Linked DNA regions of Homo sapiens. The protein of the gene in region 2 purifies or fractionates together with the protein of the main gene of each other region. This does not show direct contact. Each region holds a gene or a part of one and is shown on either strand. Other genes may lie near its edges.

Region 1 (2,776 bases), on a different chromosome or scaffold from region 2:
CACACAGGGTGCCCTGATGGGACTGCCCTGCAGAAGTCACACTGACCTGGTGACTTCTCAGTTTGTAAGCATTTTTAACTTACAGCCTTCGATGTAGCTACATGTAGGAAAGAATTATGTACCTGTAGAATTACCTGTGTGGGGGTGCTGGAGCTTATTTCCCTTCACTGGGAGCTGGTCGTGCTGACATTTATATTGTAAGCTGAGTTTCACTTCCTAGAGTCATAAATCACAGTTTGGTTATCACACATTTGCACTTTGGTTATCACACAGAGACATTTTCTACCAGACACTGCCACTGTTGACCTACAACATGTAGGTCATGTACTTTGAACAGCATGTACTTTGTAGAAGTGAACAGTCCTGGAATGTGTCCATCTTGGTGAGTATAGGCCTTAAAGATTCACAGTACATACGGTCTCTTTTGTAGATGAAGTGCGCACAGGAACCTATAGGCAGCTCTTCCACCCAGAGCAGCTGATCACCGGGAAGGAAGATGCGGCCAATAATTACGCCAGAGGCCATTACACCATCGGCAAGGAGATCGTCGACCTGGTCCTGGACCGGATCCGCAAACTGGTAAGAAGAGAAGGCTTCATGTGACCATTGTCCTGCACAGGAGGGTAGATCTTAGATTGTGAAGGGGAGGTCATTTTGTCAAAACCTAGACCAGTGCGTTGGCTGGGTCTGGTGGCTCACGCCTGTAATCCCAACACTTTGGGAGGCCAAGGTGGGCAGTCACCTGAAGTCAAGAGTTTGAGACCAGCCTGGCCAACGTGGTGAAACCCTGTCTTTACTAAAAATACACACATTAGTCAGGCGTGGTGGTGCCTGCCTGTAGTCCCAGCTACTCAGGAAGCTGAGGCAGGAGAATGGCTTGAGCCCGGGAGGCAGAGGTTGCACTGAGCGGAGTTCATGCCACTGCCCTCCGGCCTGGGCAACAGAGTGAGATTCTATCTAAAAAAAAAAAAAAAAAAACAACTTAGAACAGTATCTTGAGTCCTATTGCGTCTGCAATGGTCTTAGTCTGAAGTATGCATGGTGATTTGTCTGTAGATCTTTGTCTGCTTTTCTTTGCTTCAGAGTGTACTGCGTGTTTATTATGGATGATTGGAATCCATATCAAGTCTTCAGAGGCAGAGAAGTGGCCCTGGCTTGGTGGAGGTTGGTGGTGTGGCTTCCACGGGCATTGATTCATGTTGTCTGGTTTCCCTCAGGCGGATCTGTGCACGGGACTGCAGGGCTTCCTCATCTTCCACAGTTTTGGGGGTGGCACTGGCTCTGGGTTCGCATCTCTGCTCATGGAGCGGCTCTCAGTGGATTACGGCAAGAAGTCCAAGCTAGAATTTGCCATTTACCCAGCCCCCCAGGTCTCCACGGCCGTGGTGGAGCCCTACAACTCCATCCTGACCACCCACACGACCCTGGAACATTCTGACTGTGCCTTCATGGTCGACAATGAAGCCATCTATGACATATGTCGGCGCAACCTGGACATCGAGCGTCCCACGTACACCAACCTCAATCGCCTGATTGGGCAGATCGTGTCCTCCATCACGGCCTCCCTGCGATTTGACGGGGCCCTGAATGTGGACTTGACGGAATTCCAGACCAACCTAGTGCCGTACCCCCGCATCCACTTCCCCCTGGCCACCTACGCCCCGGTCATCTCAGCCGAGAAGGCCTACCACGAGCAGCTGTCCGTGGCTGAGATCACCAATGCCTGCTTCGAGCCAGCCAATCAGATGGTCAAGTGTGACCCTCGCCACGGCAAGTACATGGCCTGCTGCATGTTGTACAGGGGGGATGTGGTCCCGAAAGATGTCAACGCGGCCATCGCCACCATCAAGACCAAGCGCACCATCCAGTTTGTAGATTGGTGCCCAACTGGATTTAAGGTATGACTGGGTAATGTGGAGTCCTTGTACCTTTCAGCAAGCAACAGACACACAGAGTAATGCTGCCCCTGAAGGCCCACATCCTTTGAGGATACTACCCCTATTCCATGGGCTAGGCATGTGGGCATCAATTAGTGAACCAGAGTGATCATTAATTCAGTGATGTCTTTTTTTTTTTTTTTTTTTTTTTTTTTTTTTTTTGAGGCAGAGTCTAGCTTTGTCGCCCAGGCTGGAGTAAAGTGGTGTGATCTCAGCTCACTGCAATCTCCATCAGCCTCCCAAGTAGCTGGAATTACAGGCACCCACCACCACACCCAGTTAATTTTTATATTTTTAGTAGAAACAGGGTTATGCCATGTTGGCCAGGCTGGTCTTGAACTCCTGACCTCAGGTGAGCCACCCACCTTGGCCACCCAAAGTGCTGGGGTTAGAGGCGTGAGCCACTGTGCCTGGCCCAGTGATGTCTTTTGAACTCTTTCTAAGTCATTACACTATGTATCTGTGATGAGCTTTACTTACTTACTTTGTTGTTGAGAAGGCTGGAGTGCAGTGGTGTGATCTCGGTTCACTGCAACCTCTGCTTCCCAGGCTCAAGTGATTCTCTCACCTCAGCCTCCTGAGTAGCTGGGACCACAGACATGCACCACTACACCCAGCTAATTTTTGTGTATTTAGTAAAGGGATTTCACCATGTTGGCCAAGCTGGTCTCAAATTCCTGGTCTTAAGTGATCTGCTTGTCTTAGCCTCCCAAAATGTTGGGATTACGGGCATGAGCCACTGTGCTCAACCCTATTTATTTACTTTTTTGAGACAGAATCCCACCTGTCACCCAGGCTGGAGTGCAGTGTGGTGATCACAGCTCTCCACTAAAAATACA
Region 2 (3,997 bases):
CTTCCTCTAAGATTACAGAAATATTTTTTCCTACTACATACTGATTGATTTTCTTTTTGTTTCTCAAATAGGTACGTTTGCGGGAGCACATGGGTGAAAAGTATACAACTTACAGTGTGAAAGCTCGCCAGTTGAAATTTTTTGAAGAAAACATGAATTTTTGAGCATTTGTCCTAATCTGCTGCCAGAATTAAAGACCTATTTTTAGAGGATTTTGGCTTAAAAAGCAAGGGCAAACAGTCATTTGGAAGCCACTCACCACTGTTTTATATCTCTTTTTTATATCTCTTTGGCGTTTCCCTACAGAAAAGAAATTGGACAGAACAGAATAATATGAAGCAGGATCACAAAAGAAAAAAAACTTTGGCTTTCATATTCTCTTTGTGAGGACAAATCTGTTGTTTGTTTGATTACTGTTTACTGAGCCTTAATCCACCAAGTTTATATTTAGAATTTTATTTTTTTAAGGTACTAATTAACTTAAACACAGAGCTATAAAATGCTGGATTGAAAATTTTATATTGTAATGTAGAGATAAAAGCAGTAGGAGAAACAAATGACATAATATGTCGTCATAATTCCTGCTATTGTTAATAACCTTAAGGAGTAGTTGATAAATTATAAAATTTTAAAAAGTCAATTCAGTTCTAGAAATAGATTTAAAGAATATGAAGTTCTATCTAGTACTTGAGCAGCTGTATTTCTTTTCTACACATTGATGGACTTTTAATATTTTATTCTCATTTAATATAAACCTCATCTAGGGTATATACAAATTAAAACTGAGACACATTGGCTTTGTAAATCAGTATGTTTTTACATAATGGTTTTGTTAGATTTATTTTTCCATCAGTGAAAACATTTCTTAAACACAAATTTCATTTCCATTTAAGCAATTTGTAAGCAAAGTCCAGGTCCATTTAGTTTTTGGATATATTTAATGTTTGTCTCCTGAAGTTTGTCTTCATGTACTGTAAGATATTAGTTGTCTTTCCATGTTTTAAATGTATGATTATATAGCACATATTTTATTAGTTGTTTAATAAGAGGTAATACCCATCTAGGAAAGAAATTTTATGAAGTTAAATACAAGTCTTGAATAGTACATTTTCACTTCTGTATTCGAGGGACTCTAAAAATAAATATTGCTCCAGAAATGTTTTCAGGTGTTTTTTTTTTGAGACAGAGTTTCACTCTGTCAGTCAGGCTGGAGTGCAGTGGCATGATCTCAACTCACTGCAACCTCCACTTCTGGGGCTCAAGTGGTATTCCTGCCTGAGCCTCCCTAGTAGCTGAGACCACAGGCGTGTGCCACCACACCTGGCTAGTTTTTGTATTTTTTGTAGAGACAGGGTTACACCACATTGCCCAGGCTGATCTCAGAACTCCTGGGCTCAAGCAATCCACTCACCTCAGCCTCCCAAAGTGCCAGGATTACAGGAATGAGCCACTGTGCCCAGCCCTGTTTTCAGTTTCTATAACTAAAAATATATCTATCTTTGAAAATTACACACACACACAAATACTCTAATGAAATGTTCCCTTTACAGCCACTTAACAATTTTTTTTTTTTTTTAAGACACAGTCTTGCTCTGTCACCCAGGCTGAAGTGCAGTGGCCCAATCTCAGATCACTGCAAGCTCCGCCTCCCAGGTTCACTCCATTCTCCTACCTCATCCTCTCGAGTAGCTGGGACTACAGTTGCCCGCCACCATGCCCGGCTAATTTTTTTGTATTTTTTTAGTAGAGACAGGGTTTCACCGTGTTAGCCAGGATGGTCTCAATCTCCTGACCTCGTGATCTGCCCGCCTCGGCCTCCCAAAGTGCTGGGATTACAGGCGTGAGCCACCGCGCCCGGCACACTTAACAGATTTTTATTTAGAGTTTACTGTGTGCCAGGTTCTCTGCCAGGAGCTGGGGATATAGTGGTGAATAAAACAATACTTCCTGCCCTTTTACAGTGCTCACAGCCTGGTTTCTGATAACTCTTATTTTCACTTTGAAGGGTTTGCTAGAACTCAACTTGCAAAACCATCAAGTCCCAATGCCCAGTTGGGAACAAATCTTTGGCAAACTTGGTATCCTTGAGCTATTCACCTTTCCGTGCATGTTTTGGAAATCCACATCGTTCTGGAGAGTCATCAGTTTTACTTAATTTTTCTAATGTATTGGTATAAAGTAGGTATTTTATTAGAATTAAAGGAATCTCACCCATATCTTTTTTTTTTTTTTTTTTTTTTGAGACAGGGTCTTGCTCTGTCACCCAGCCTGGAGTGCAGTGAGGTGATCATAGCTCACTGCAGCCTTGACCTCCTGGGCTTAAGTGATCCTCCCACCTCAGCCCCTCAAGTAGCTAGGACCACAGGCATGCACCACCACACCTGGCTAATTTTTAAAATTTTTTGTGGAGAGGAAGTCTGTGTTGCCCAGGCTGGTCTCAAACTGCATTCAAGCAGTCCTCCTGCATCGGCCTCTGAAAGTGCTGGGATTATAGGCATGAACCACCACACCTGACTTCCCCCATACTTTCTTATTAATTACCATACTGTATATTTTTATTTTGTTTAAACATCTTTTCTTCCCACTTTTATCGTTTTTACTTGAGTGCTTAATTCATCTTCCTAAATTAATTTAAAAACTCATCTTTAAGACTGTGAATTTTCTTCCGAATATACCTTTGGCCACAGTTCAGAGACTTTGATGTGTTACTCTTTTGGCATTGGTTCTAAAATGTCAATCATTCTTTTTTTTTTTTTTTTGAGATGGAGTCTTCTTGTTGCCCAGGCTGGAGTACAGTGGTGCGATCTTGGCTCACTGCAGCCTACGCCTCCTGGGTTCAAGTTCCCCTCCCTCAGCCTCCCGAGTAGCTGGGATTACAGGCACACACCACCATGCCTGGCTGATTTTCGTTATTTTTAGTAGAGATGGAGTTTCACCATGTTGGCCAGGCTGGTCTTGAACTCCTGACCTCAGGTGATCTGCCTGCCTTGGCCTCCCTAAATGCTGGGATTACAGGCTTGAGGCACCATGCCTGGCCTAAAGTGTCAGTAATTCTGATTTCGGTTTTCTCTTTTAGAAGTTTTGATTTCCACAGACTTACAAAGCTAAGGAAGTTTTATGTCCTTGCTCTGGCTACACTGCAGTGTTACTGAATATCACCTGCACAACCTTTACTGCTTGCAGTTTTTTTTTTCCTGTTGCTTTGTACATGATCCGTTATTCAAATGGCCTTATAGGCATTCAATAAAGGTGAAATGTTAAATACAAAATCACTTGTCTATTAAATTTTATTCAAGGTTCTATATAAGATCTGATAAATGGAACTTTGTGATGGAAATGTTTTATATGGTAGCCACTAGTCACATATAGCTATTGAACCTTTGAATCATGGCTAGTTTTAGAGTTTTATATTTTAATTTTAATTAAATAGACGTGTCTAGTGGCACCATATTGTACAATGCAGTTCTCATTCAATAAATCTTAAGTACTTAACAATGCATCGTGTACTCTTCTATGTACTGGGTAGACAGCAGTGAGCAAAACAAAGTCCCCGTTCTCATGGAACTAATGTTCTAATGACAACTATTAATTACATACCATGAAATGTCTCAAACTCCTGGGCTCAAGTCATCCTCCTGCCTTAGCCTCCTCAAGTGCTGGGATTATAGGTGAGAGCCACTGCACCTGGCCAGAAGCACGAACTTCTAACTTAGGCTTTTATTAATTATCTTCCTTGCAGAATAATCAACAGAAGACCCTTTAGACAAAGAACTTGCACTATGAGGTTTAATTGGAAACATTAAAATGGTTAACTCATAATGAATTATAAAACTTTGATAGTTACATTGTACTATCATTTATGAGGCATTTATTTTTCATTATTTACACCTGAAAGAAACTTCATACTTGTGTGTTCTGTTCCCCATCTCAGAGCAAGATTATGAAGAGAAGGTCTAAACTACTTATATAAATCAAAACCCAACTGGGCTAGAAATGA

What was found. The genes of interacting proteins can lie anywhere in the genome.
Region 1: the proteins of NEK4 (region 2) and TUBA3C purify together in Homo sapiens (affinity purification with mass spectrometry, with the first as the bait; 2 studies listed by BioGRID). This does not show direct contact.

Annotation. Positions count from the first base shown.
Region 1 is NC_000013.11:19,176,049-19,178,824, reverse strand, and holds part of TUBA3C (tubulin alpha-3C chain), read left to right. Parts: intron 1-430; coding exon 431-579; intron 580-1,217; coding exon 1,218-1,898; intron 1,899-2,776. UniProt on the Homo sapiens protein: Tubulin is the major constituent of microtubules, a cylinder consisting of laterally associated linear protofilaments composed of alpha- and beta-tubulin heterodimers.
Region 2 is NC_000003.12:52,707,944-52,711,940, reverse strand, and holds the end of NEK4 (serine/threonine-protein kinase Nek4), read left to right. Parts: intron 1-71; coding exon 72-164; 3' UTR 165-3,497; downstream 3,498-3,997. UniProt on the Homo sapiens protein: Protein kinase that seems to act exclusively upon threonine residues. Required for normal entry into proliferative arrest after a limited number of cell divisions, also called replicative senescence.